Linked DNA regions of Homo sapiens. The protein of the gene in region 1 purifies or fractionates together with the protein of each later gene. This does not show direct contact. Each region holds a gene or a part of one and is shown in the gene's direction. Other genes may lie near its edges. The genes, in order: MYH6, USP24, BRD1, DCAF1, TTC4, BDP1 and NSF.

Region 1 (3,500 bases):
CTCTGCTGCTTGTAGGACCCATCCATGAACAGTCCATTAAAGCTGTCCATAACCCGAGGTGAAGGGATTTCCACTGAACCCCCGTTTTGCTCCTGGCTAGCCAGACAACAGATCAAAATGGTAGATACGATATTCTCCCAATTTAGTCAAGACCAAGGCTAAGGCCCAAAAAATGAGGTAAGGGCACTTAAAGAGGATAAGGAGATGAGGTGAAGAGGAGAGTAGCCTGCTAGCACTTTCCTGGCCTGGAAGGGAGCAATCATGTTGAAACCCAGCCCTGGGCATAAACACAGCAAGCCTGGGAGAGCAAGGAATATGGTTGATTGGACTTTGTGGTTAACTTGGAGAATTGCAAAGGTATCTGATTGTTTCGAGGCATGTTGTCACAAATATTTGTAAAATACAAGCACTCATTTTCCCGTCTTATGAATAGCGCAACAGAGCCTAGTGAATCTGGGGACTCTGAACTTCTTGATCTCACAGGATACCAGGATCCCCCTTCAACCACAGGTTCTCAGGATTTGGGGCTGCAGATGCTCACACTGGGTCTGAGATGCCCTTGGGAGCTTCAGCCAAATTCCTATTGATGGCCTATGCATTATAGGATGTTTAGTAGCATCCCTGGCCCCTACCCTCTAGATGCCAGTAGCAAGCCCCACCAAGACATGACAATCAGACATTGCCAACTGTTCCCTGGGGCACAAAATTGCCCCTAGTTGAGAACCACTGCTTGAGAGGAACCTAAGTTCCTGGTAGCTTTTCAGAGCCGGGGGGATTCCAGTGGAGGGGTCCAGGCGGTGGGTCTGAGCCCTTTGTGTCTGACCCAGGCACGCATCGAGGAGCTGGAGGAGGAGCTGGAGGCCGAGCGCACCGCCAGGGCTAAGGTGGAGAAGCTGCGCTCAGACCTGTCTCGGGAGCTGGAGGAGATCAGCGAGCGGCTGGAAGAGGCCGGCGGGGCCACGTCCGTGCAGATCGAGATGAACAAGAAGCGCGAGGCCGAGTTCCAGAAGATGCGGCGGGACCTGGAGGAGGCCACGCTGCAGCACGAGGCCACTGCCGCGGCCCTGCGCAAGAAGCACGCCGACAGCGTGGCCGAGCTGGGCGAGCAGATCGACAACCTGCAGCGGGTGAAGCAGAAGCTGGAGAAGGAGAAGAGCGAGTTCAAGCTGGAGCTGGATGACGTCACCTCCAACATGGAGCAGATCATCAAGGCCAAGGCAGGCTCTGCTCGGCCTCCCCTCGCCCTCTCCCCTGCACAGCGGAGCCTCCCCCATGCCTTCTCTCTCTGTCTGCCATCTCCCTTGTCATTCTCATTCTCTTCATCACCCTTTGGTCTCTCTTCCTGTCTCCCCTGCCCCTCTCTGGCTCTCCTCACCCTCTCTATCTCTTCATGTTCCTCCTTTCTTTAATTCAAGTCTCTCTTCAGACTGCGCCCTCCCACACCTTCTGTGTCCCCCTCCTGCCCTCTGGCATTCCCCATCTCTGACCCTCTCTTCCTTCCTCTGGTCGACTCAGCCCCTCCCACACTCACCCTTCCTGTCTTGCTTCCTGAAGGCAAACCTGGAGAAAGTGTCTCGGACGCTGGAGGACCAGGCCAATGAGTACCGCGTGAAGCTAGAAGAGGCCCAACGCTCCCTCAATGATTTCACCACCCAGCGAGCCAAGCTGCAGACCGAGAATGGTGGGTGCCCCTAACCAACCCCCTGCCTAGGGCAGGACATGACTTGTGAAATGGCCCACAAGCCCCTCATTTCACCTCCAGGAGAGTTGGCCCGGCAGCTAGAGGAAAAGGAGGCGCTAATCTCGCAGCTGACCCGGGGGAAGCTCTCTTATACCCAGCAAATGGAGGACCTCAAAAGGCAGCTGGAGGAGGAGGGCAAGGTGAGGCCCAGTGGGGAGGGTGGGCAGGCTTGATGGCAGCCCTGGGGCAATTCATCTCAGTGCCAGAAATGGAGCCTGGAGCTGGAAAGAGTCCTCTGCAAGGGAAAGACCCTCCAGTCTAGGTTCTGCCCTGCAGCTAAGCGTCATTTAATGCCTCTTTTCTTATTCGTAAGGGGATGGGGTGAGCAGACTGGGAAACTCCTCAAACAGTGAGGTGCCACATCAGCCCACATGGTGAATAAGGCTGGGCTTGGTTGAAGTACTACATAAGAAGAGAATCTAGAGAATGGGGCACAGGGAGTCCCTCCCACCTCCTGGTGCCCCCCCCCCTCCCCAGGCGAAGAACGCCCTGGCCCATGCACTGCAGTCGGCCCGGCATGACTGCGACCTGCTGCGGGAGCAGTACGAGGAGGAGACAGAGGCCAAGGCCGAGCTGCAGCGCGTCCTGTCCAAGGCCAACTCGGAGGTGGCCCAGTGGAGGACCAAGTATGAGACGGACGCCATTCAGCGGACTGAGGAGCTCGAAGAGGCCAAGTGAGCTCCAGATACCCCCTTAACCTGACTCTCAGAGAGGAAGGGGCGAGAGGACCTGGGGTGGGGACAGGCAAAGTGGTCATGAGACGGAAGTGGAAGAGACAGGAGGAACTCGGAGGGCAACAGAAGTGCTTGGAAGAAAGCCTGAACTCTTTGCTCTGTGAACTCTGGCTGGCCCTGACCCACTTCCTGTGACGGGCGAGCTTTTGGCCCGGGTTATACCTGATGCTCACGTATAAGACGAGCAAAAAGCTTGTTGGTCAGAGGAGCTACCGTCGATCAGCCTGTGTGGGGGGTGAGGGCAGGGGGCACTGACACCCAGATGCCACTGCAGGTAGGGAGGACGCCTGGGCAGCCCGTGCTGGCGGACTCTGTTCCAGGCATGAGCAGGCTCAGCTCCTGCTAGGCTGGACTTACGGTGTCTCAAGGAGATATAGGGAGGGGGTGGAAGGAGGTCCACCCAAGGCTCCAGTGTTGCCCAGTAGAGTCACACACACACCCTCCACCCTCACCTGGGCAGAAAGAAGCTGGCCCAGCGGCTGCAGGATGCCGAGGAGGCCGTGGAGGCTGTTAATGCCAAGTGCTCCTCACTGGAGAAGACCAAGCACCGGCTACAGAATGAGATAGAGGACTTGATGGTGGACGTAGAGCGCTCCAATGCTGCTGCTGCAGCCCTGGACAAGAAGCAGAGAAACTTTGACAAGGTGGACCATGGGCGGGGGCCGCAGCCAGCATGCAGGGCAAGGGGGCATGAGGGGTTCAGTGAGAGGCCAAAGGCAACCTCCTTGGAGGTGGAGGAGGAGGGCTAAGCCCAGGCTCGGGACCAGGGACAGATCTTGGACATGCGGCTGAGGCTGGGGGCTGGGGCACTGGGAAGCAGGAGGGCTGGGGAGCTAAGGCTGGGGGGCTGAAGAGTGAGCCTTGTCCCCGGGCAGATCCTGGCCGAGTGGAAGCAGAAGTATGAGGAGTCGCAGTCTGAGCTGGAGTCCTCACAGAAGGAGGCTCGCTCCCTCAGCACAGAGCTCTTCAAGCTCAAGAACGCCTACGAGGAGTCCCTGGAGCACCTAGAGACCTTCAAGCGGGAG
Region 2 (3,500 bases), on another chromosome or scaffold:
CACTTTGGCATTGTTCTTGACTGTGTTTCATTTTGAAGTTTTAAAGCTTCGTGCAACTGGTTTTACCCCTTCAATTTGAAAAGTTGTTTTAGAAATTGAAATAATTGTTGCTACATATTTCTTAGATATTTTCAAATGGTAAACACCTGCTTTATTTGTAGACAATACATTGAGATCAATGCTAAGGATGAGGAGGTTGATTTTTTTAACCTTATAATGTTTGTCTGATCTCTGGGTTCTAGAGGGTGTGGAAAAGGAAAGTGGTATAAATTTAATGACACAGTTATAGAAGAATTTGACCTAAATGACGAGACCCTGGAGTATGAATGCTTTGGAGGAGAATATAGACCAAAAGTTTATGATCAAAGTAAGTATTTACAAATGGATATTTTCCATTAGTTTTTTTATTTATCGTTTTCTATAAAAATTAATAGTATTCTTTATATAAAAACACAACAGATTTTGTTATTTTTATTGTACTACTGTTCTAGCAATAGAACCATGAGCAAGCTCTTTAATAACCAAAGTGAAAATGTTCAAGCTGTTTATAAAAATTTTTTTAAATAATTTCTTACAACAACCTTGAGGGATAGGTAGGGGAGCTGGGAGTAAGTTAAAAGGATGAAATGAGCATCAGAGAGAAAGTAATGAATACTGAAATTGAACCTTAAAAATAGTTTTGGAAGTAGTTATCCATTAAAATTTTCAGATTTCCTTTTCACTTATGTAGAGGTGTGACTAATTAGAGAAGACATTTCTAGCACCTGTGTTTTTAAAACCATATTTATTATGCAGTGTGGCAAAGCAGTCTTTCCCTCTACAATCCCCACTCCCAGGAAAAAAGAGTATGAGGAGAAGTACAGCCCAATCAGAACTTGCTATTTGATAAAAAGCTATTTGGTGGAGACCTTAGCATTTCAGAAACCTGATTTTGAAATCTTCTAGTGGTATTTCTAAATTTTTAGCTGTATTGGATTCACTGTATTAGATTTTGATACCATGCCATTATAGTTAAGCATCTTATGGTGGTAACCTTTAAGAGTTGGATATAGTATTGTCAGAATTTGCCTGGATTTGGCCGATCTTGGCAGAAATGGTTAAGTGAGGCCAGTTATCCCATCTTGTGCCACAGAACATATTTTTAAATGTCACTTGCTATTTGCTTACATTTAGACCTCCCTAGGATACTTACCTTCTTTCTCTTACTCCATTACCATACTGCTCCCTTATTCCTTGTCCCCACCTATATCACTTCCAAGTGAGAGATCCAGCTAGGCCCACAACTGAAGTATCCTGACTTCCATGCTAAGCAGTACTCTAAAGACACTCACATTTTACTTATACTTTGCATTTTACAAACTTAGGGAGTAGTTAACTACTTGCTGGAATAATGGGCCCTTTGTTTTAGATTGTCAAGACAAGAAAAACTTTTATTTACAGATGTGTTTCTTAATGTCTTGTTATAAAGCAAACCCATACACTGATGTGCGCCGAAGATACTGGAATGCCTATATGCTTTTCTACCAAAGGGTGTCTGATCAGAACTCCCCAGTATTACCAAAGAAAAGTCGAGTCAGCGTTGTACGGCAGGAAGCTGAGGATCTCTCTCTGTAAGTGTCTCTTCCATGTAATTTGCTGTGTGATTTCTATGGTGATGATGTGGTCTGTGACAATATACTATTTGAGATTTTAAAGATAATTAGCTAAGCTGGAGAGAAATTCTAAAAAGAATTCCAAAAAGAAAATAAATCCCTTATTGCTTCATGGTTATTTTCTTGGCAAGAAGTTGTTACATATTTAGAAACATGCACGTAAGTTATTTCATTCTAGAATTGAAGTGTTTTGTTTTTTGTTTTTTTGAGACAGTGTGGTCTCACTCTGTCACCCAGGCTGGAGTGCAGTGGCATGATCATAGCTCACTGCAGCCTCGACCTCCCAGGCTGAAGCGATCCTTCCACCTCAGCCTCTTGAATAGCTGGGACCACAGGCGAGGGGCACCAGGCCCAGATATTTGGTTTGTCTGTTTTTTGTAAAGATAAGGTCTCCCAATGTTGCCCAGGCTGGTCTGGAACTCCTGGGCTCAAGCAATACTCCCATCTAGGCCTCCCAAAGTGCTGGGATTATAGGCATAAGTCACCATACCTGGACTTTTTTTTTTTTTTTTTTTTAATGTTAGCAGCATTTGTTGAATACACTTTTTGTCCAAAGCATAATGCTATGCCAACACTGTCAGAATGTTGTTGTTTTTTAAAGGTCCTATTGTCAGTGAATTTGCCTTTTAATATATTGGGTCAGGAAAGTGTTTACTTTTTCATGTGAGAAATATGACTATATGTGTTTTATTAAATTTGAAAACTTGGTTCAATACTTTGTTCTTACACGACTTTGAGTGTGTGGCTCTAAGATAAGTTTATTTCACTGCTTTTTTAATGGCTGGGAAAGATATCTCACAATAATATGAAGGAAGAATTCATTTTGTGCTTAAATGTTAAATCTCATATGCCACTTAAGTAAAAATTTGTGTTAAATTTGCCCTGCACTATTTTATCTTCTATAATGTCAATCAGTTCTCCCAACTAATTAGAAAGTATTGCATTTTTAATTTCTTAATTGTTACATTATGATTGTATATATTTATGTGGTACAGTTTTATGTTTCGATACATGTATAATAATCAAATAGTCTAATACCCGTTTATGTGAATTTGGCAAGTCTTAGTAACTACTGAAAAAATAGCCACTTTATACTAGACAGAGTTTTCTGATTCTATCTCTTAGGTCAGCTCCATCTTCACCAGAAATTTCACCTCAGTCATCCCCTCGGCCCCATAGGCCGAACAATGACCGGCTGTCTATTCTTACCAAGCTGGTTAAAAAAGGCGAGAAGAAAGGACTGTTTGTGGAGAAAATGCCTGCTCGAATATACCAGGTAAGAACCATATAAAAAATTCTAAGGGGGAATATCCACGTGGACATCAAAATGTATCTAGTAGGTCCAGAAGTACTTCTGCTGGATTAGTTGTACCACTGGGGCTACATCGTCTTACACACTTGTCTCATGAACCTTTTATGCCACGACACAGAGGGGGCCATAGAGCTAGAGCCATGGAGTGCTAAGAACACAAGTATGAATACACACTCATGATTGGCAGGCACAATCACTGACCTGCTCTGTGAGTGTGAAATGTCACAAATAAACAGAGTTGTGGGGAGTGGGCAGTAAAGAAATCGTGTTGCTGAAATAAACTTATTTTGTCTGGAGAGAAAAACAAGTTAAGGTTCATAACCTTTGAGTGGGACTAATAAAACAATCATTGGCCATTATTTATTGAACACCTACTGTGTGCTACGTGCTTTAAGCACATCTTTAATTTGTAAAAGATTATTATGCAGTATCAGGTTTTATTCTCATTTTTTGGATGGAAAAACAGGTTCAGAAAAGAAGAAGTATGTGCCAGTGTCACAGGACAAGGATCTAAATTCAGAACTGTCTACTCAGTC
Region 3 (3,500 bases), on another chromosome or scaffold:
CTGCCTGAGGGTGTTCAGCAGCATTGAGGAAAACCCAGAGATCCTCACTTCAGGGGACATCAGCGCAGCAACGCTCTGCCTCGCCATGGAGAGGCCTGGCCTTGGGGGTGGGGGTGCGGGGCTCGGCCTCCCTCCTTGAGCCTCCTTTTCTGAGCAGTTTGGAGTCCGGGGTCCTTGCATCTTGTAGTCCAGCAGTCTTTGCCTTCACACCCTCGGTCCTTTGAAAAGCTATGACAGTACCCTGAGGTGGGCAGGTGGGAACCCGGGGACAGAGGCGTTGGGGGAGAGGAGGGTCTCAGGGCTGTGAAGCATGTGCCAGAAACTGATGGCCACGGCTGTCCTGAGGCTGGCAGGGCGCGCGTGTCCTGCAGCTGTGGAGGATGACAGGTGTTGGGGGCCCACTCAGGCCAACTCCCTCGTTGACTTCCTCTCCCCTTTGAGGTAGGGTCAGGGTGCCCCGGCACTGTGACGAGCAGGCCTCATGCGGCCAGGCCTGGGGGACATGGTGAGGACAGGGCTGAGGGCAGACCCAGGTGGCCTACTCTCCTGCGACCATCTGTGTCATGGCCTTTGCAGGGCTCTGATTTTCTTCTGATCACCCTGGTGTGGATGTTGGCTGGGTTGAGGCTGGCGGCCTGTGCTGTCTGGCGCACTCTTCTGTCCACTGAGAAGGGAGCAGGTGCTATCAATGGAAATGGGACCCTGGCTGTGGGGAAACGTGTGTCGGGATGGAGGCGCTGTGCAGGGCAGGGCAGCAGGTCGGCTGTGTGCCAGGCCCCCGTCATGCTCTGTCCAAGCCAGGATGGGCCCAGCATGTGGTTTTCTGTGCACCTGGTTTCTTTCCAGCCGCTCCCTCCATTCCCAGCTGTCCTGGAGGTGGGTCCTCAAGGGTCCCCCATTCTGTCCTGGCCCCGCCTTTGTGGGCCTTTCTGGTTCTGTGAAGGCCCCCCCCGCCGCCAGCTTGCGGAGGCCTCTGTCCTCTCTGGAGGGTGGAACCTGTGCACCGGGGCCAGCCCCCTGCTCACCTTGGCCTGGCGGTCCCCTCTGTCCCCTCCATCCCCTCTGTCTCCTCTGTCCCCTCTGTCCCGGTGCTGTCCTGGGGCTCTCTAGTGAGGGTGGTCTGTTGTCCTCCCCAGGATGGGCCTGCAGGACCCCTGACGTGGATGCCTCTTGGGGTCTCACCTGCATGGTATCTGAGGCCTTTTGCAGAAGGAGCCTCTGGGTTTGACTGACGGAAGTGTTCACTGTTCTCAGAGAGAAAATGATGAGGAGATGAAGGCTGCCAAAGAGAAGCTGAAGTACTGGCAGCGGCTGCGGCACGACCTGGAGCGCGCTCGCCTGCTGATCGAGCTGCTGCGCAAGCGGGAGAAGCTCAAGCGTGAGCAGGTGGGGCTGGGCCTGTCCCGCGTGGAGTGCACCACTGGCCACGGGGCGTGGGTGGGACGCTGGCAGCTCCTGCAGAGGGTGGGCTGCACCCGGTGGGTCCTGGCCCACAGCAGTGCCTTGCTCAGCCCAGGCTGGGTGCCTGGCTGCCATGGGTTGCAGAGCCCTAAGTGGAGGCTGCGTTGTCCTATGCCTGGACGGAAGCACAGGAGCCTGTGGGGGCTGCTTGTGGCTGTGGGGCGCGTGGTGGGGCTGAGACGCATGTGCGGCTCCCTAAAGCTGAGGCTCTGCTGGGCCCCCCCAGGTGAAGGTGGAGCAGGTCGCCATGGAGCTGCGGCTGACCCCGCTGACGGTGCTGCTGCGCTCAGTGCTGGACCAGCTGCAAGACAAGGACCCCGCCAGGATATTTGCGCAGCCCGTGAGTCTGAAGGAGGTGGGTGTTTGCGGCGCTCGTCTGTCCTGCCGCATGTGTGACTGTGGATTTGTGCTGCCGTTTGACCGGGAAACGTGTGATTGGCTAGAGTACATCCCTTGTGTTCTTAATTCTCGTTTTTATTTAACGTATTTGTTTTTAAATTATAAAAGTGATACATTTCATTGTAAAATACTGAAAGTGCAGTGGGCAAGAGGCCCTGTGCAGACAGTACCCTGGGCTGTGGCAGCATCCGCCCGGCACCCTCCAGCGTGCTTTAGCTGAAGGAGCTGGGGTCGGGAAGGTCCCTGCAGTACTTGGGTCTTATGTCTGTACCGTCTGCGTGTCTGTGTGTGGCTCTCAGATAGGATGGGCTTGTGGGTTATATGGAATAATAAATATAGAGTCAACTAATATCCTGTTTTAGTTTGTAAATGATTCTTTTTCCTCCCTAAAATTAGGTACCAGATTATTTGGATCACATTAAACATCCCATGGACTTTGCCACAATGAGGAAACGGTTAGAAGCTCAAGGGTATAAAAACCTCCATGAGTTTGAGGAGGATTTTGATCTCATTATAGATAACTGCATGAAGTACAATGCCAGGGACACCGTGTTCTATAGAGCCGCGGTGAGGCTGCGCGATCAGGGAGGTGTTGTTCTGAGGCAGGCCCGGCGCGAGGTGGACAGCATCGGCTTGGAAGAGGCCTCGGGGATGCACCTGCCTGAGCGGCCTGCTGCGGCACCGCGGCGGCCTTTCTCCTGGGAAGACGGTAAGAACTGGCGCCGTGTCCGGAGGAGGTGGAAGACGCTCTTTCTAGCAGACTCTGTCCTGCTCTGTGTTGCCAGCTCCCTATCAGCATGGTCCGGGAGCCACTAGCATGCAACCGCATACATCATTTACATTTTCTAGTAGCCTCACTGAAAAATGGAAAAGAAGCAGGTGGAATTTACTTTAATAATATGTCTTATTTTACTCAGTGTATGGAAGAGTTGATTTCAACATGGGATCGGTAAACGTTACTGAGGATATATAAGCTTTTCACCTTCTTTGCCATCTGATGTGTATTTTACGCTCAGCACCTGTCACTTCAGACTGGCTGCGTTTTGGGTGCCCACCAAGAGGACTGTGTGGCTGTGGCTCCCTATGGGGTGGCCGGTCTCGACGATGCAGACCCAGAAAGCAGCTTAGTTGGGGGTTTTCATCCAGAGTGGGCCTCGGCTAACTTCTGAGGGTGGCGTGAAGCCGGAGGATCTCTGGCTTTGCCTCCAGCCCTTTAACTTCGTGGTTTGCGCATGTTGTAGAAAGGGCTCTGGGAGTGTGTCCACGGCCCACCTGGACTCCAGCCTGGGCTTGTGCTTCTTGGTTGCCCAGGCACGTGTTGCAGCCATGTGTAGTCACCTGCACCCTTCTCTAGACTGGTCCTCGGAAACCGGGGCTGTCCCCTGCACCCTGCTTGTTAGTCGCACCTCTGGGATTGTCTGTCGAAGGGTGTGTCCTGCCCACATGGGTTGTCAAAGCACATAGAGCTCCAGCACCTCAGCTCCAGCTCTGAGCCACAAACTGAGCAGAAATCACGGTGTGTTTGGCTTATTTGTCTAAAGGTCCCATATCCCTGATTTCTTGGCCTACCCTTTCTCTTGATGAATCACTGACCCGTGCTAGGTCGCTTCTTCTGGGATGAGGCCTGGCCCTCTTCCTCT
Region 4 (3,500 bases), on another chromosome or scaffold:
CCAAAGCCCAGCCATAAAAAAACAGCTGGACAGACATCTTCCTTCCCCACCTACGCTGGACAGTATAATCACAGAGTATCTTAGAGAACAACATGCTCGCTGCAAGAATCCAGTTGCCACCTGCCCACCTTTCTCCCTCTTTACTCCTCACCAATGTCCTGAGCCAAAACAGAGGCGGCAAGCGCCAATAAACTTTACGTCAAGGCTAAACCGCAGGGCATCATTTCCAAAGTATGGAGGGGTGGATGGCGGATGCTTTGATAGGCACCTTATCTTTAGCAGGTAAGAAGAGGCCCCTTCTTACTCCCTGGGAATTGGAATGATTCTTTTATTTAAATCAAACTGGGCAGTATCAGCATAGTTGTCCTGAAATACCACTGATTGTTACTTTGTGTAATACTTGAACAATGTAATTGTACCACCTTTTGTCAACCATGGGTTCCTTGTGTGATTGTTGGCAGTATATTGATATAATCGTTTGTGTTCTCATCTCAACTAGTATGTTTTCTAGAACCCACACCCCCTCATTACTACTGTCCATAAGGAGGCTCCCAAACTTGTGCTGGTGCAAGTTGCTTCCTGTTCTGATTCTTGACAAATCTTACATAAAGGTTACGGGATCACAGGTTTTAAACATGGGAATTTTTTTTTTTTTTGGAGACGGAGTCTCTCTATCGCCCAGGCTGGAGTACAGTGGTGCTATCTTGGCTCACTGCAACCTCTGCCTCCTAGGTTCGAGTGATTCTCCTGCCTCAGCCTCCTGAGTAGCTGGGATTACAGGCAGGCACCACCATATCTAGCTAATTTTTGCATTTTTAGTAGAGATGGGGTTTTACCATGTTGGCCAGGCTGGTCTTGAATTCCTGACCTCAATTGATACCCCCCCTTCGGCCTCCCAAAGTGCTAGGATTATAGGCATGAGCCACTGTGTCTGGCCTAAACATGGGAATTTTTGTTATTTAAATTTGTAAGTGGAAATCTTTTTCTTATTTAAAATAAAAAGCACTGAAGGTCACTGTGATTTTGGAAGAAGCCATTTGAAACATTAATGTTCTGTGCTTTTTCTTCTATCCTAGCAGTTTGCTTTTTCTGAGTCCCTGCACATTCTTTGCCTGTGATTCTCTCTTTTTTTTGCTTAGATTCCGTCCTATTTCAGTGTTCCGGGAAGCCAATGAAGATGAGAGTGGCTTCACCTGCTGTGCATTCTCAGCACGGGAGCGGTTCCTGATGCTTGGCACCTGCACAGGGCAGCTGAAGCTCTATAATGTGTTTAGTGGACAGGAGGAGGCCAGCTATAACTGTCACAACTCAGCCATCACACATCTTGAACCTTCCAGGGTAAGGGTTCCTTCCTAGGATGCTCTCAGTCATTCTTCCAAGATGAATTGGTGAACTAGAGTAAAGGAGGCTTACCCTTTATTGAGCTCTCTCTTTTAAATGAGTCCTCAACTGGAAAGTCTAGTTGAGGTTAATTCATATTTCAGATGGAGACTGAGGAATATGGCAAAGTTAGTAGGAAGAAAGGAACCATCTTTGACATCTTCTCATTTTCCCCCCTCCCTTTTATCTATTCTATTTTTGTGGCTAGTTCAGTAGGATTTAATATTCTCTTAAGTTTGGTTATTTTATAGGACACTATAGGTGTATGTATTCAAATCCTAGTGGCTTCTGACCATTTCTTGGTTTCTGGGGATTATAAAATTGTCTCTTTAATTCAACAACATTTTTATGCAAATCTTTAAAAATGCTAATGGCAGGTAGTGACATCTGCATGTATGTAAATACGTGGTTACCCACCTTGCGCCTTTTTCTTTTAGGATGGGTCCTTGCTGCTGACATCTGCTACTTGGAGCCAGCCTTTGTCTGCACTTTGGGGAATGAAGTCAGTATTTGATATGAAGTATGTATCTGCTTTTGGAACCTAGTCTGTGCTTTATTTACCTAGTTTATACCCCCCTTCATTTGGTTCTTAGACTGGAAGCCTTTTGGGGAAAGAGGATGCTGTCGGTTATTGTTAACTTCTCTCTTCCTCATCTAAGACTCATGTTTAATAAGACTTTATCTTTCTTAATTCCTAGATACTTTTATGAGGTATATACATTCTCATTATGCAGCAGACCCCGACCCAGAATCTATGTATTTTCCCATGTTCACATAGGACATTGCAGTCTTTGCTGTGTCTCCTCTCCTCTCCTCTCCCCTCCCCTCCCCCCTCACCTCCCCTCCTTTTCTCTCTCCTCTCTTCTCCTCTCCTTTCCTTTCCTTTCCTTTTTTTTTTCTTTTTTTTATTTTTTGTGAGACAGAGTCTCGTTCTGTCGCCCAGGCTGGAGTGCAGTGGCGCGATCTCAGCCTACTGCAAGCTCCGCCTCCCGGGTTCACACCGTTCTCCTGCCTTAGCCTCCCGAGCAGCTGGGACTAGAGGCGCCCGCCACCACACCTGGCTAATATTTTATATTTTTAGTAGAGACAGCGTTTCACTGTGTTAGCCAGGATGGTGTTGATCTCCTGACCTTGTGATCCGCTGGCCTTGGCCTCCCAAAGTGCTGGGATTACAGGCCTGAGCCACCGCACCTGGCCTTTTCTTTTCTTTCCTTCTTTAGACGGGGTCTCATTCTGTCACTTAGGTTGGAGTGCGGTGGCACAAACATGACCTACTGCAACCTCCACCTCCCAGGCTCAAGTGATCCTCTCATCTCAGCCTGCTGAGTAGCTGGGACCACAGGCATATGCCACCACGCCTGGCTAATTTTTTGCATTTTTGATAGAGATAGGGTTTCGACATGTTGCCCAGGGTGGTCTCGAACTCCTGAGCTTAGACAATCCACCTGCCTCAGCCTCTCAAAGTGCTGGGATTGTAGGAGTGAGCTACCATGCCTGGCCCCTTTGCTGCGTGTTTCAAAGGCACATGTGCCCTGTTTGTCATTTCTCTAAGGAATTCCCATTCATTATTTTGTATCTGCTTGGTTAAGGTGATAGAAGGAATTTTCTTTGTAATCTAAGTGTATGATTGTTTCCTCTTTGGGAGTCCAGGATCTTTAGGTGAGTGTGATTGTGCAAGAGGCTGGGGGTCACCTGTGTTTCAGTTGGTTGCAGGAATATGTCCTGAAGATCTGTCACTTCAGTGCTCCTGTTGTTTGTCCATAGGCATTCCTTCACAGAAGATCACTATGTTGAGTTCAGTAAGCACTCCCAGGATCGGGTCATCGGCACAAAAGGAGACATTGCCCACGTAAGTACTTAAGAACCACTGTTTTCAAGCTGATCATACCCATTTGTTCATACTGAAATCTTCTTGATAGAATGTGAGGACCTAAGTCCTTTGGGCAACTAGAAATCAGTGATATTCCTTCTAGTTAGAATCTAAAAGTATGATAATATAGTTCTGAGCTGTATGGGAAAAATGTATAAGGGCTAAATGTGACATTGAGAAAGATGTCATTAGCACCACAGATATTTTTGAATTCTTAGTAAGTTTTAGATTAGAAATGAAACCCCTGCCT
Region 5 (3,500 bases), on another chromosome or scaffold:
GGATCACTAGAGGCCAGGAGTTCAAGACCAGCCTGGCAAACATGGCAAAATCCCGTGCCTAATAAAAATATAAAAAATTAGCCGGGCATGGTGGTGCATGCCTGTAGTCCCAGCTGTCTGGGAGCCTGGGGCACGAGAATCACTTGAACCCAGAAGGTGAAGGTTGCAGTGAGCAGAGATTGTTCCACTGTACTCCACACTCCAGCCTTGGTGACAGAGCAAGACTTTGTCTCAAAAAAAAAAAGAAAAGAAAAGAAAAAAAGAAAATCCTGTCAGTCAGGTGCAGGGCTCACACCTGTAATCCCAATAACTTTGGGAGGCTGAGGCAGGAGGATAATTTGAGCCCAGGAGTTTGAGACCAGCCTGGGCAATATAGGGAGACCCCCATCTCTACAAAAAAAAGAAAAAAATTAGCCAGGCATGGTGGCATGTGCCTGTAGTCTCAGCTATGCAGGAGGCTAAGGTAGAGGAATTGCTTAAGCCCGGAAGTCGAGGCTACAGTGAGCTGTTATCATGCCACTGTACTCTAGCCAGGGTGACAGAGCGAGACCCTGTCTCAAAAAAAAAAAATAAAATAAAATAAAATAAAATTATGTCATAATAGGACAAGTGATACATATACACATTTGGGGTACTGCTGTCAAATGGGTTAAGCCTGCATTTCATGTTTTATACATTCTAGATAACTTTGAATTAGTGTCTGGGGACCGATGTGGGAAAATAGATCATGAGTTATTGATACCCAGAAAGTACATGTTTTATCCTTAGGTTTATTGATCATCTAATGGTGATGTTTGGTGAAACACCCTCTTGGGACCTAGAGCAAAAATATTGCCCTGATAATTTGGAGGTAAGAGAAGTTTTATTTCGTTCCTCTATGGAATTAATTTTTTTTTTTTTTTTTTTTTTTTTTGCGGCGGGGGAAGCAGTCTGCTTTATTTTTTTGAAAATTATAGTAAAATATACATGACATAATATTTACCATTTTAACCATTTTTAGGTATATAGGTCAGTGGCATTAAGTACATTCACATTGTTGTGCAACTATCACCACCAGCCATCTCCAAAACTTTTTCATCTTCCCAAATTGAAACTCTAAGTACTTCATATAAGTGGAATCATACAGTATTTGTCCTTTTATGTCTGGCTTATTTCACTTAGCATAATGTCTTCAAGGTTCATTACATATTGTATCATGTGTCAGAATTTCCTTTTTTTTTTAAATTTTTGAGACGGAGTCTCGCTGTTTCACCCAGGCTGGAGTGCAGTGGTGCGATCTTGGCTCACTGCAACCTCTGCCTCCCAGGTTCAAGCGATTCTCCTGCCTCAGCCTCCTGAGTAGCTGGGATTATAGACGCGTGCCACCACACCCAGCTAAGTTTTGTATTTTTAGTAGAGATGGGGTTTCACCATGTTGGCCAGGCTGGTCTCGAACTCCTGACCTCAAGTGATCCACTCACCTCCGCCTTTCAAAGTGCTGGGATTATAGGTGTGAGCCACCATGCCCAACCAGAATTGTTTTCCTTTTTATTTATTTTTATTTTTTGAGACAGAATCTCGCTCTGTCACCTAGGCTGGAGTGCTGTGGTGCAATCTCAGATCGTTGCAACCTTGCCTCTTGGTTCAAGTGATTTTCATGCCTCCGGTTCCCAGGTAGCTGGGATTACAGGCATGTGCCACCAAGCCTGGCTAATTTTGTTTGTATTTTTAGTAGAGATGGGGTTTTGCTATGTTGGCCAGGCTGGTCTTGAACTCCTGGCCTCAAGTGATCCGCCCTCCTTGGCCTCCAGAAGTGCTGGGATTACAGGTGTGAGCTACCGTGCCCAGCCAGAATTTCTTTCCTTTTTAAGGCTGAATAACATTCCATTGTTGGGATTTTTTAAATAAAAAATCACAATATCCAGTATAAAGAATTACCTTTTTCTAACATTTGAGAGTAGGATGCCAGCTGATGTCCCATTACCCCTGAATACTTTACTGTGTATTTCCTACACAAAAGGACATTTTTCTTTATAATACCCATATAGCTATCAAAGCAGGAAATTTACATTAATTCACTGTTACCATCTAACCCTCAGACTCCATTCAGGTTTCACAAATTCTTTATAGCAAAAGGGTTTTGTTCAGAATCACATACTGTATTTAGTGATCATGTCCCCTTAGTCTCCTTCAGTATGGAAGAGCTCCTCAGTCTTTCCTCCACTTTTTTTTTTTACTTAAAAAATTTTTATTCATATTTTTGTGATCCTGTGACTCAACTGCAGGACACTTTGAAGATTACAGACCACTTATTTTGTAGAATGTCTGTCAGTATGGGTTTGTCTCATGTTTCCTTCTGACTAGATTTGGATTATACATACTTGTTTGTTTGTTTTGAGATGGAGTTTTGCTCTTGTTGCCCAGGCTGAAGTGCAATGGTGTGATCTCGGCTCACTGCAGCCTCTGCCTCCAAGGTCCAAGCGATTCTCCTGCCTCAGCCTCCTGAGTAGCTGGGATTACAGCTACTCAGATACCACGCCCAGCTAATTTTTTGTATTTTTAATAGAGATGGGGTTTTGCCGTGTTGGCCAGGCTGGTCTCAAACTCCTGACCTCAAATGATCTGCCCGATTTGGCCTCCCAGAGTGCTAGGATTACAGGTGTGAGCCACCATGCCCGGCCTGGATTATGCATATTTGGCTGGAATATTACAGAAGTGATGCTGTATTCTCATTGCACCTATCAGATGGTACATAATCTCCATTTGTCCCATTACTCATGATGTTCACTCTGATCACCTGATTGAGGTGGGGTCTGCCAGCCTTCTCCACTGTACAGTTACTTTTTCTTTATGATTAATAAGTGTTTTATAGGGAGATGCTTTGAAATGGTGTAAATATCCCATTGCTCGTCAGATATTCAACATATTTATTTATATTGGTGGATTTATAGTTTCCTGTTTCATTTAATGAGTTTTAATCTGTTACTATGATTGTTTCTTTTATGCTCAGAATATCCCAGATTTGGCCAGTGGGAATCTCTTCAAATTTGTTTCTGTGTCCTTTTGACTTGTGTCTATTTTTTAAGTGGTTGCTTTCTTACATAGGATGTTCTAGGTTCAGATTGCGCTTTCCTTGCCCCAGCTCTGGAATTAGCTATTTTTTCCCAAGAAGCCCTGGTTCTTTCTAGTGAAGAATGGTATTTAGAAGCCGAGATCTCTGTGCAATAAGTGTATAAGTGTATCGATTAATACAATGGGGGTAGAGAGGCAAGCTTACTGCCTCAATGCCTTCTCAGTGCCACAGCTTGGGGGAGAAAGAGAGAGAAAGAAAGAAAGGAGAGAGAGAGAGAGAGAGAGAGAGAGAGAGAGAGAGAGAGAGAGAGAAGAGGAGAGGAGAGAGAAGAGAGGAGAGAGGAGAGAGAGAGAGAGAGACCATGAAGTCTCATTGGTATCTCCAACTCTTAATTCAACATCCACAGGATTTTTTCTCCCTTTCTATATTTGTAACAATGACTTTCTTC
Region 6 (3,500 bases), on another chromosome or scaffold:
AAAGCGAATATCAAGTACTTCTAGCCTGGTTAAGTCTAGTGTCAGTGTTCCTTCAGAATCTCATCCCTTATCTACAATTAATCAAGAGGCTCCACAGCCAACTGCCACTTCAACAAAAGAGAAACAGCCATGCTCAGACAGATACCGAATATACAAAGCCCAGAAACTGAGGGAAATGTTAAAAGAAGAATTGAGAAAAGAGAAGGTAAGGGAGGAGAATCAGGATTTTGATGTTGCCTTCTATTTATGTTAGTAAGGAATCATTGGGAAGAAAAGCATTTGTAGCATTTTGATGGGGGAACAAAACCACATAACATCCCTTAGTCAATAGAACATCCCTTCTTGTTAATGGATTGATTGATACACCGTGGACTTAAATTACATTTTTCACTGATAGTAATTTTTACATTATTTATTTATGTTTTCACTGTTTTTGGTGAAGACCACAAATAAGTTTCATACGCATACACATAGATGCACATACACAAACATATTTATAAAATAAACCTTCAGTCTGATTTTTCACATAAAGATGTCCAAGTGATAAGTGATATATTTATTTGAATTAAGACAAGTATAGGCCGGGCGTGGTGGCTCATGCCTGTAATCCCAGCACTTTGGGAGGACTAGGGGGGCAGATCACTTGAGGTCAGGAGTTCAAGACCAGCCTGGCCAACATGGCAAAACCCTGTCTCTACTAAAAATACAAAAATTAGCTGGGCCTGGTGACGTGCATCTGTAATCCCAACTACTGGGGAGGCTGAGGCATGAGAATTGCTTGAACCTGGGAGGTGGAAGTTGCAGTGAGCCGAGATTGTGCCTCTGCATTCCAGCCTGGGTGATAGAGTGAAACTGTCTCCAAAAAAAAGACGAATATAGTTGAGCAGAATGAATTGGTAATGTTTTCTAAATTGACTATGGAAAATTACAAGTGGGAAAAATTTGTGTTATGCATATATTAGAGTCCATGTTCTTTTTAATCTTGAGGATTGATTTCTTTTCTAGAAGGGCAGGTAACAGCAGTAGAGCATGCTGGCCCTGGAGTTAAATACTTAGGGATTGAATCTCAGCTTCATTTCTTTACTAGCTTTGTGACCTTGGGTAATTTAATTAATCTATTTCCTCATCTGTAAAATAGACCAATAATAGTTCAGGTTGAGCATCCCTGAAATTGAAAATGCTCCAAAGTCTAAAATGTTTTGAGTGCCAAAGTGATGCTCCAGGGAAATGCTCATTGGAGCATATTGGATTTCAAATTTTCAGGTTAGAGATGCTCAGCCAGCATGTATTCTGCAAGTATTCAAAAATGTGAAAAAATCCAAAATGTGAATCATTTCTGGTCTCAAGTATTTCAGATAAGAGATGCTCAACCTCTATCTAGCTCATTAGAGGGTTGTGAAGATTAAATGAGTCAATACATGTAAAACACACTTAAACTGGTGTCTTGGGCCTTGTGCAGTGGCTCACGCCTGTAATCCCAGCACTTTGGGAGGCCGAGGTGGGCGGATCACCTGAGGTCAGGAGTTCGAGACCAGCCTGGCCAACATGGTGAAACCCCGTCTCTACTAAAAATACAAACATTATCTGGTTGTGGTGGTGCACGCCTGTAATCCCAGCTACTCAGGAGGCTGAGACAGGAGAATCGCTTGAACCTGGGAGGCAGAGGTTGCGGTGAGCCAAAATCGTGCCATTGCACTCCAGCATGAGTGACAGAGCGAGACTCCGTCTCAAAAAAAACCAACCAAACAAAAAAACTAGTGTCATGAAAATAGTAAGTGTCCAACCAGTGTCAGCTTCTGTTATGAATTATAAAATGCCTCTTAGTTTTTTTTAAATTAAGGGAAGGCATTTTGCTTGGTGCTTTATATCTGTTATCTTATGTAATTATATCAACTATGTGAAGTAGATATCACTGTTTCACACAGGAGAAAACAAGCTTTCAATTTATGTCTTCTAAAATGTAAGCCTCACAACAATTGCTTGAACCTGGAAGGCGGAGGTTGCAGTGAGCTGAAATTGTGCTACTGCATTCCAGCCTGGGCGACAGATCAAAGCCTCTAAAAATGTTTTATGGGTTGGGAATTGGGGGTGGGGGGATTAAAAAAAAGTTCTGTATTTTACAGAAACTGCTTATTTGCTTATTTAATTTATTTTGGGGAATTAAAGATTAAACATTTGCTTCAAGAATTTTACAAAATACACAGAATTTCAAGTCACTACAGGGTAAAAAAAAAGCTGTGTAAGCATAAATTCTCAGTGAGCTATTAAGATGTTTAGTTAGAAGGCATCAGTAAGCATTTTATACATTGAGCTTTATTAGTTTTATTCTTTGGTTATTTATTTAGTTTTGAGACAAGGTCTCACTGTCACCCAGGATGGAGTGCGCTAGTATAATTGCAGTTCACTGCAGCCTCAACCTCCCAGGCTCAAGTGATCCTCCCACCTCAGCCTCCCAAGTAGCTGTGGCTATAGGCATATGCCACCACATCCAGCTAATTTTTTTGTATTTTTTTGTAGAGATAGGGTCTCATTTATGTTGCCCAGGCTGGTAACTCCTGAGCTCAAGCGATCCTCCTGCCTCAGCCTCCCAAAGTGCTGGGATTAGAGAAATAAGCCACTGTGCCTGGCCACATTGAGCTTTTATCTAGTCCTAGTCACTTTAATTGTTAAAATCTAAATACTGCCTGGGTGTGTGGTTCACTCCAGTGCTTTAGGAGTGTGAGGCAGGAGGATCACTTGAGCCCAGGAATTTGAGAGCAGCCTTGGCAACGTAGGGAGACTCCATCTCTACCAAAAAAAAAAAAACCCCACAAAATTAGCCAGGTGTTAGGCAAGCATCTGTAGTCCCAGCTACTTGGGAGGCTGAGGTGGGAGGACTGCTTGAGCTCAGGAGTTCAAGGCTGCAGTGAGCTATGATTGCGCCACTGCACTTTAGCCTGGATGACAGAGCAAAACCCCATCTCAAAAGTAGATAAATAAAAACTAAAAGCTATTGAGGGTAATGTGCTACAACTTTTTAATATTCCATCTACAAAATTACATAATTGGGGTGAGAATAATATTAAAGCACTTACAGTGAACGCAACAGTGGACTGTATATTTGCATATAGTACATCTGAAATTCTTTAATATTTATAAAAGTGGATCTGTGTGTTTATGTATACAGAAACAATGGAAAAACAAATATGCTATAAATGAAAGTCAGAGGCCACCAGATCGTTCAAAAATGACTATGAGAGACTTCATATATTATCTACCAGATAATAATCCAATGACGTAAGTAAAATTTATTTCTGCTTTACTATCTCTTTTTTTTTTTTTTTTTTTTTGGAGGTGGAGTCTCGCTCTGTCACCCGGGCTGGAGTGCAGTGGTGCAATCTTGGCTCACTGCAACCTCTGCCTCCCAGGTTCAAGCGATTCTCCTGCCTCAGATTCGCGGGTAGCTGGGATTACAGATGCTCGCCACCACACCCGGCTAATTTTTGTATTTTTAGTAGAGA
Region 7 (3,500 bases), on another chromosome or scaffold:
AGTCTCATTATGCTCATTTAATTTTTATTATCCGTATGTTGTCATATTTAGGTTATGTTCATTTTTTACCAGTTTTGTTAATCCCTAGTATTTTTTGTTTTTGAGACGGAGTCTCACTCTGTCGCCCAGGCTGGAGTGCAGTGGTGCAGTCTCGGCTCACTGCAACCTCTGCCTCCTGGGTTCAGGTGATTTTCCTGCCTCAGCCTCCAGAGTAGCTGGGATTACAGGCACCTGCCACCACACCCAGCTAATTTTTGTATTTTTAGTAGAGATAGGGTTTCACCATGTTGGCCAGGCTGGTCTCGAACTCCTGACCTAAGTTGATCCATCCTCCTCTGCCTCCCAAAGTGCTGGGATTACAGGCAGGAGCCACCGCACCCGGCCGTGTTTTTTGTTTATAAAAGAAAAAATTTCCAGAGTGCACTTTACTCCCTGATAGGAGACTAAATTACTTAAATATAAATTTTAGAAGGTACGTGTTAAATTAACCTAATGAATTAGTAGCATTCAGAAGTGTTTGTATCTGTTAAAGATTCAAAATATACAAACTAATTTCTTTTAATGGTGATTCTATTTCTAGTAAACTAAGGCAGAAATCATTATGCAGAAGAAACAGCACCCTGTTAACCATGTTCTTTTTATAAACCGTCTCTGTTCTCACTTTATTGTTAGGAAGGCGTAATCTGTTTTCATGTAATATAAGTACATGTGAGTCATGTTGAGTTTCTTCACTCATTTGTCCAATTCCCAGTCAACCTGTAGGTGGAGTTAACCTTTAGTTACATAATATAACGAAACAAACATTAAACCTACTGCTTCTGGGACAGTCTTCTCACCAAAACTCAGGGAAAATGGGAGGGTGTTGCCACTGACTGACTTAATGAAAGTATCTGACAAATGTAAGGTCTTTCAAATAGTGAGATAAGAAATGTATATAAATTATTTGATCGACTACTTACTTTCTATCTATACACACACACTATCAGTATATAATGTGTATTTTCATTTTATAGCTATTAAATATGAGGTTCTAGAATGAGTTTTCAGTTTGCAGAATTCTGAGAATCTAGTTCCAACACCTTTGAGAGGACAACAACCACAATTGCACTTGCCATATTTATTAGTCAAAATGAAGTGAAGTCAATCTGTTGAAAGCTTTGTTTTGTTTTTCTGATTAGTTTGTTTAATAAGACATTCAAATTATGATCTTTAATATAATTTCTTCCCCTAATAGCTTGGTGCTAACAGTGGTTTGCACATCATCATCTTTGATGAAATTGATGCCATCTGCAAGCAGAGAGGGAGCATGGCTGGTAGCACGGGAGTTCATGACACTGTTGTCAACCAGTTGCTGTCCAAAATTGATGGCGTGGAGCAGCTAAACAACATCCTAGTCATTGGTATGTTTACTTTTTAAAAAAGTACTATTCATTCAAAAACGTTAGCCATAAGTTCTGAATTAAGATGTGTGTAGGTTGTGATTAAACTGTTTTGCCAGTGTTTCCAAATTAGAATCCAGTGATATTGAAGAATCTATTGTAATGCCTAGGCTTAATAGGAAAAATAAAAGATGGATTTCAGTCACTTGTAGGTTTAAGCTTATAGCTCACCCACAGGTGAAAAAGATGTAGGTTGAAGCTTATAGCTCACCCAAAAATGAAAAATACACATGAAACAATGGAATGCAGTGGTTTTCAAACTGGGTCTTGCAGGCCTTCGGGGGTCCTCAGAGGTGCTTTCAGGGTCAGTGAGGGCCAGGGAGTGCGTTTCAGATCCTACATCACTATTATAACTTCCTCTTTTAGCTGTTTTATGTACTGAGGTGCTTCTGAAGATGACTTCTGGGGGAAAAAAAAAAAAAACACCCTGCTGTTTTATGAAGTCTGAAAACCACTGGCCTGTAAAAAAGAGAAGGAACTTTGGAGTCAGAGAGATCGTGTCACATTGCCCCTCTGTCACTTTGACAGATTATTTACCCTTTGAATCTTAAATTTTCTTTTTAAATACTGGAAGTTTTCATAACATTTATATTCCATTGGCTTATACAGTAGTGAAATAGTAAAGCAAAGTCTCCTTAGCTTGTTAGGGAAATTACTATTCTTACATATACTAAAAGGACATTTGATTTTATTTTTGAACTCTGATCATTTGTTGTTTTGTTTTAACATCTGTGTTCAGGAATGACCAATAGACCAGATCTGATAGATGAGGCTCTTCTTAGACCTGGAAGACTGGAAGTTAAAATGGAGATAGGTAAGGAGATCTGTCACTGATTGGGTGTGTGGTGGGGGGAGTGGAGGCATTTAGAGTTCATTAACAGGAACAATGTCATATGGTGTAGTATTTTTTAGAAAAGGTTTATATCATGAGAAGTAGATGTTTACATGCTTGAGTACCTATAAGGAAAACATTAGGATCATAATAATCTCCTCTAGGCTGGGCGCAGTGGCTCACACCTGTAATCCCAGCACTTTGGGAGGCTGAGGCAGGTGGATCACTTGAGGCCAGTTGTTCGAGACCAGCCTGGCCAAGATGGTGAAACCCCTTCTCTACTAAAAATACAAAAAACTTAGCCGAGTGTGGTGGTGTGCACCTGTAATTCCAGCTACTCGGAAGGCTGAGATAGGAGAATCGCCTGAATCCAGGAGGCAGAGGTTGCAGTGAGCTGAGATCGTACCACTGCACTCCAGCCTGGGAAACAGAGCGAGACTCTGTCTCAAAATAATAGTAATAATAATAATGATAATCTCCTCTGATGGTGCTTTCGAGACTAGGAAAATGCCTATTTTATTTTTAATTTCATCAGGCTTGCCAGATGAGAAAGGCCGACTACAGATTCTTCACATCCACACAGCAAGAATGAGAGGGCATCAGTTACTCTCTGCTGATGTAGACATTAAAGAACTGGCCGTGGAGACCAAGAATTTCAGTGGTGCTGAATTGGAGGGTCTGGTGCGAGCAGCCCAGTCCACTGCTATGAATAGACACATAAAGGTCAGGAAAATCAGCTAAACAGATTATAAACATTATGCCAGTATTCTTTCTCTTTCCTTTCAAGCATATCAAGGGGTAGGGAAATGCTGACTTTTGGTGGAGAAGAGATGGTAAAAGGAATAAGAATTAATTGTCAACTGCTAAATCTTCAGAGTAGCAGGAAGGAAGATAATGTTTGCATCTGCCCTGTAGTAACCACTGACTCATCTACCTTAGGTCATCACCATCTGACACAGACACGTAAAGTGAAAATTTTGAAGAAGTGTTTTTAAATCTTTGTATTGTATTAAAAGTTGTAATATGGCCAGGCATGGTGGCTCATGCCTGTAATCCCAGCACTTTGGGAGGCTGAGGCGGGCGGATCACAAGGTCAGGAGATCGAGACCATCCTGGCTAACACGGTGAAACCCCGTCTCCACTAAAAATACAAAAAATTAGCCGGGCATGGTGGCGGGCACCTGTAGTCCCGGCTACTCGGGAGGCTGAGGCAAGAGAATGGTGTGAAC

The links.
Region 2: the proteins of MYH6 (region 1) and USP24 purify together in Homo sapiens (affinity purification with mass spectrometry; one large-scale study listed by BioGRID and IntAct). This does not show direct contact.
Region 3: the proteins of MYH6 (region 1) and BRD1 purify together in Homo sapiens (affinity purification with mass spectrometry; one large-scale study listed by BioGRID and IntAct). This does not show direct contact.
Region 4: the proteins of MYH6 (region 1) and DCAF1 purify together in Homo sapiens (affinity purification with mass spectrometry; one large-scale study listed by BioGRID and IntAct). This does not show direct contact.
Region 5: the proteins of MYH6 (region 1) and TTC4 purify together in Homo sapiens (co-immunoprecipitation; one large-scale study listed by IntAct). This does not show direct contact.
Region 6: the proteins of MYH6 (region 1) and BDP1 purify together in Homo sapiens (affinity purification with mass spectrometry; one large-scale study listed by BioGRID and IntAct). This does not show direct contact.
Region 7: the proteins of MYH6 (region 1) and NSF purify together in Homo sapiens (affinity purification with mass spectrometry, with the first as the bait; one large-scale study listed by BioGRID). This does not show direct contact.

The regions. Positions count from the first base shown.
Region 1 is NC_000014.9:23,387,774-23,391,273, reverse strand, and holds part of MYH6 (myosin-6), read left to right. Parts: intron 1-827; coding exon 828-1,217; intron 1,218-1,554; coding exon 1,555-1,681; intron 1,682-1,762; coding exon 1,763-1,881; intron 1,882-2,218; coding exon 2,219-2,415; intron 2,416-2,607; exon of another isoform or gene 2,608-2,678; intron 2,679-2,935; coding exon 2,936-3,119; intron 3,120-3,350; coding exon 3,351-3,500. UniProt on the Homo sapiens protein: Muscle contraction.
Region 2 is NC_000001.11:55,093,365-55,096,864, reverse strand, and holds part of USP24 (ubiquitin carboxyl-terminal hydrolase 24), read left to right. Parts: intron 1-242; coding exon 243-367; intron 368-1,468; coding exon 1,469-1,610; intron 1,611-2,777; coding exon 2,778-2,928; intron 2,929-3,500. UniProt on the Homo sapiens protein: Ubiquitin-specific protease that regulates cell survival in various contexts through modulating the protein stability of some of its substrates including DDB2, MCL1 or TP53.
Region 3 is NC_000022.11:49,796,874-49,800,373, reverse strand, and holds part of BRD1 (bromodomain-containing protein 1), read left to right. Parts: intron 1-1,254; coding exon 1,255-1,386; intron 1,387-1,687; coding exon 1,688-1,816; intron 1,817-2,256; coding exon 2,257-2,569; intron 2,570-3,500. UniProt on the Homo sapiens protein: Scaffold subunit of various histone acetyltransferase (HAT) complexes, such as the MOZ/MORF and HBO1 complexes, that acts as a regulator of hematopoiesis.
Region 4 is NC_000003.12:51,416,516-51,420,015, reverse strand, and holds part of DCAF1 (DDB1- and CUL4-associated factor 1), read left to right. Parts: coding exon 1-282; intron 283-1,139; coding exon 1,140-1,338; intron 1,339-1,817; coding exon 1,818-1,900; intron 1,901-3,144; coding exon 3,145-3,229; intron 3,230-3,500. UniProt on the Homo sapiens protein: Acts both as a substrate recognition component of E3 ubiquitin-protein ligase complexes and as an atypical serine/threonine-protein kinase, playing key roles in various processes such as cell cycle, telomerase regulation and histone modification.
Region 5 is NC_000001.11:54,732,861-54,736,360, forward strand, and holds part of TTC4 (tetratricopeptide repeat protein 4), read left to right. Parts: intron 1-768; coding exon 769-850; intron 851-3,500.
Region 6 is NC_000005.10:71,458,651-71,462,150, forward strand, and holds part of BDP1 (transcription factor TFIIIB component B'' homolog), read left to right. Parts: coding exon 1-205; intron 206-3,166; coding exon 3,167-3,276; intron 3,277-3,500. UniProt on the Homo sapiens protein: General activator of RNA polymerase III transcription. Requires for transcription from all three types of polymerase III promoters. Requires for transcription of genes with internal promoter elements and with promoter elements upstream of the initiation site.
Region 7 is NC_000017.11:46,691,669-46,695,168, forward strand, and holds part of NSF (vesicle-fusing ATPase), read left to right. Parts: intron 1-1,234; coding exon 1,235-1,400; intron 1,401-2,178; coding exon 2,179-2,253; intron 2,254-2,806; coding exon 2,807-2,994; intron 2,995-3,500.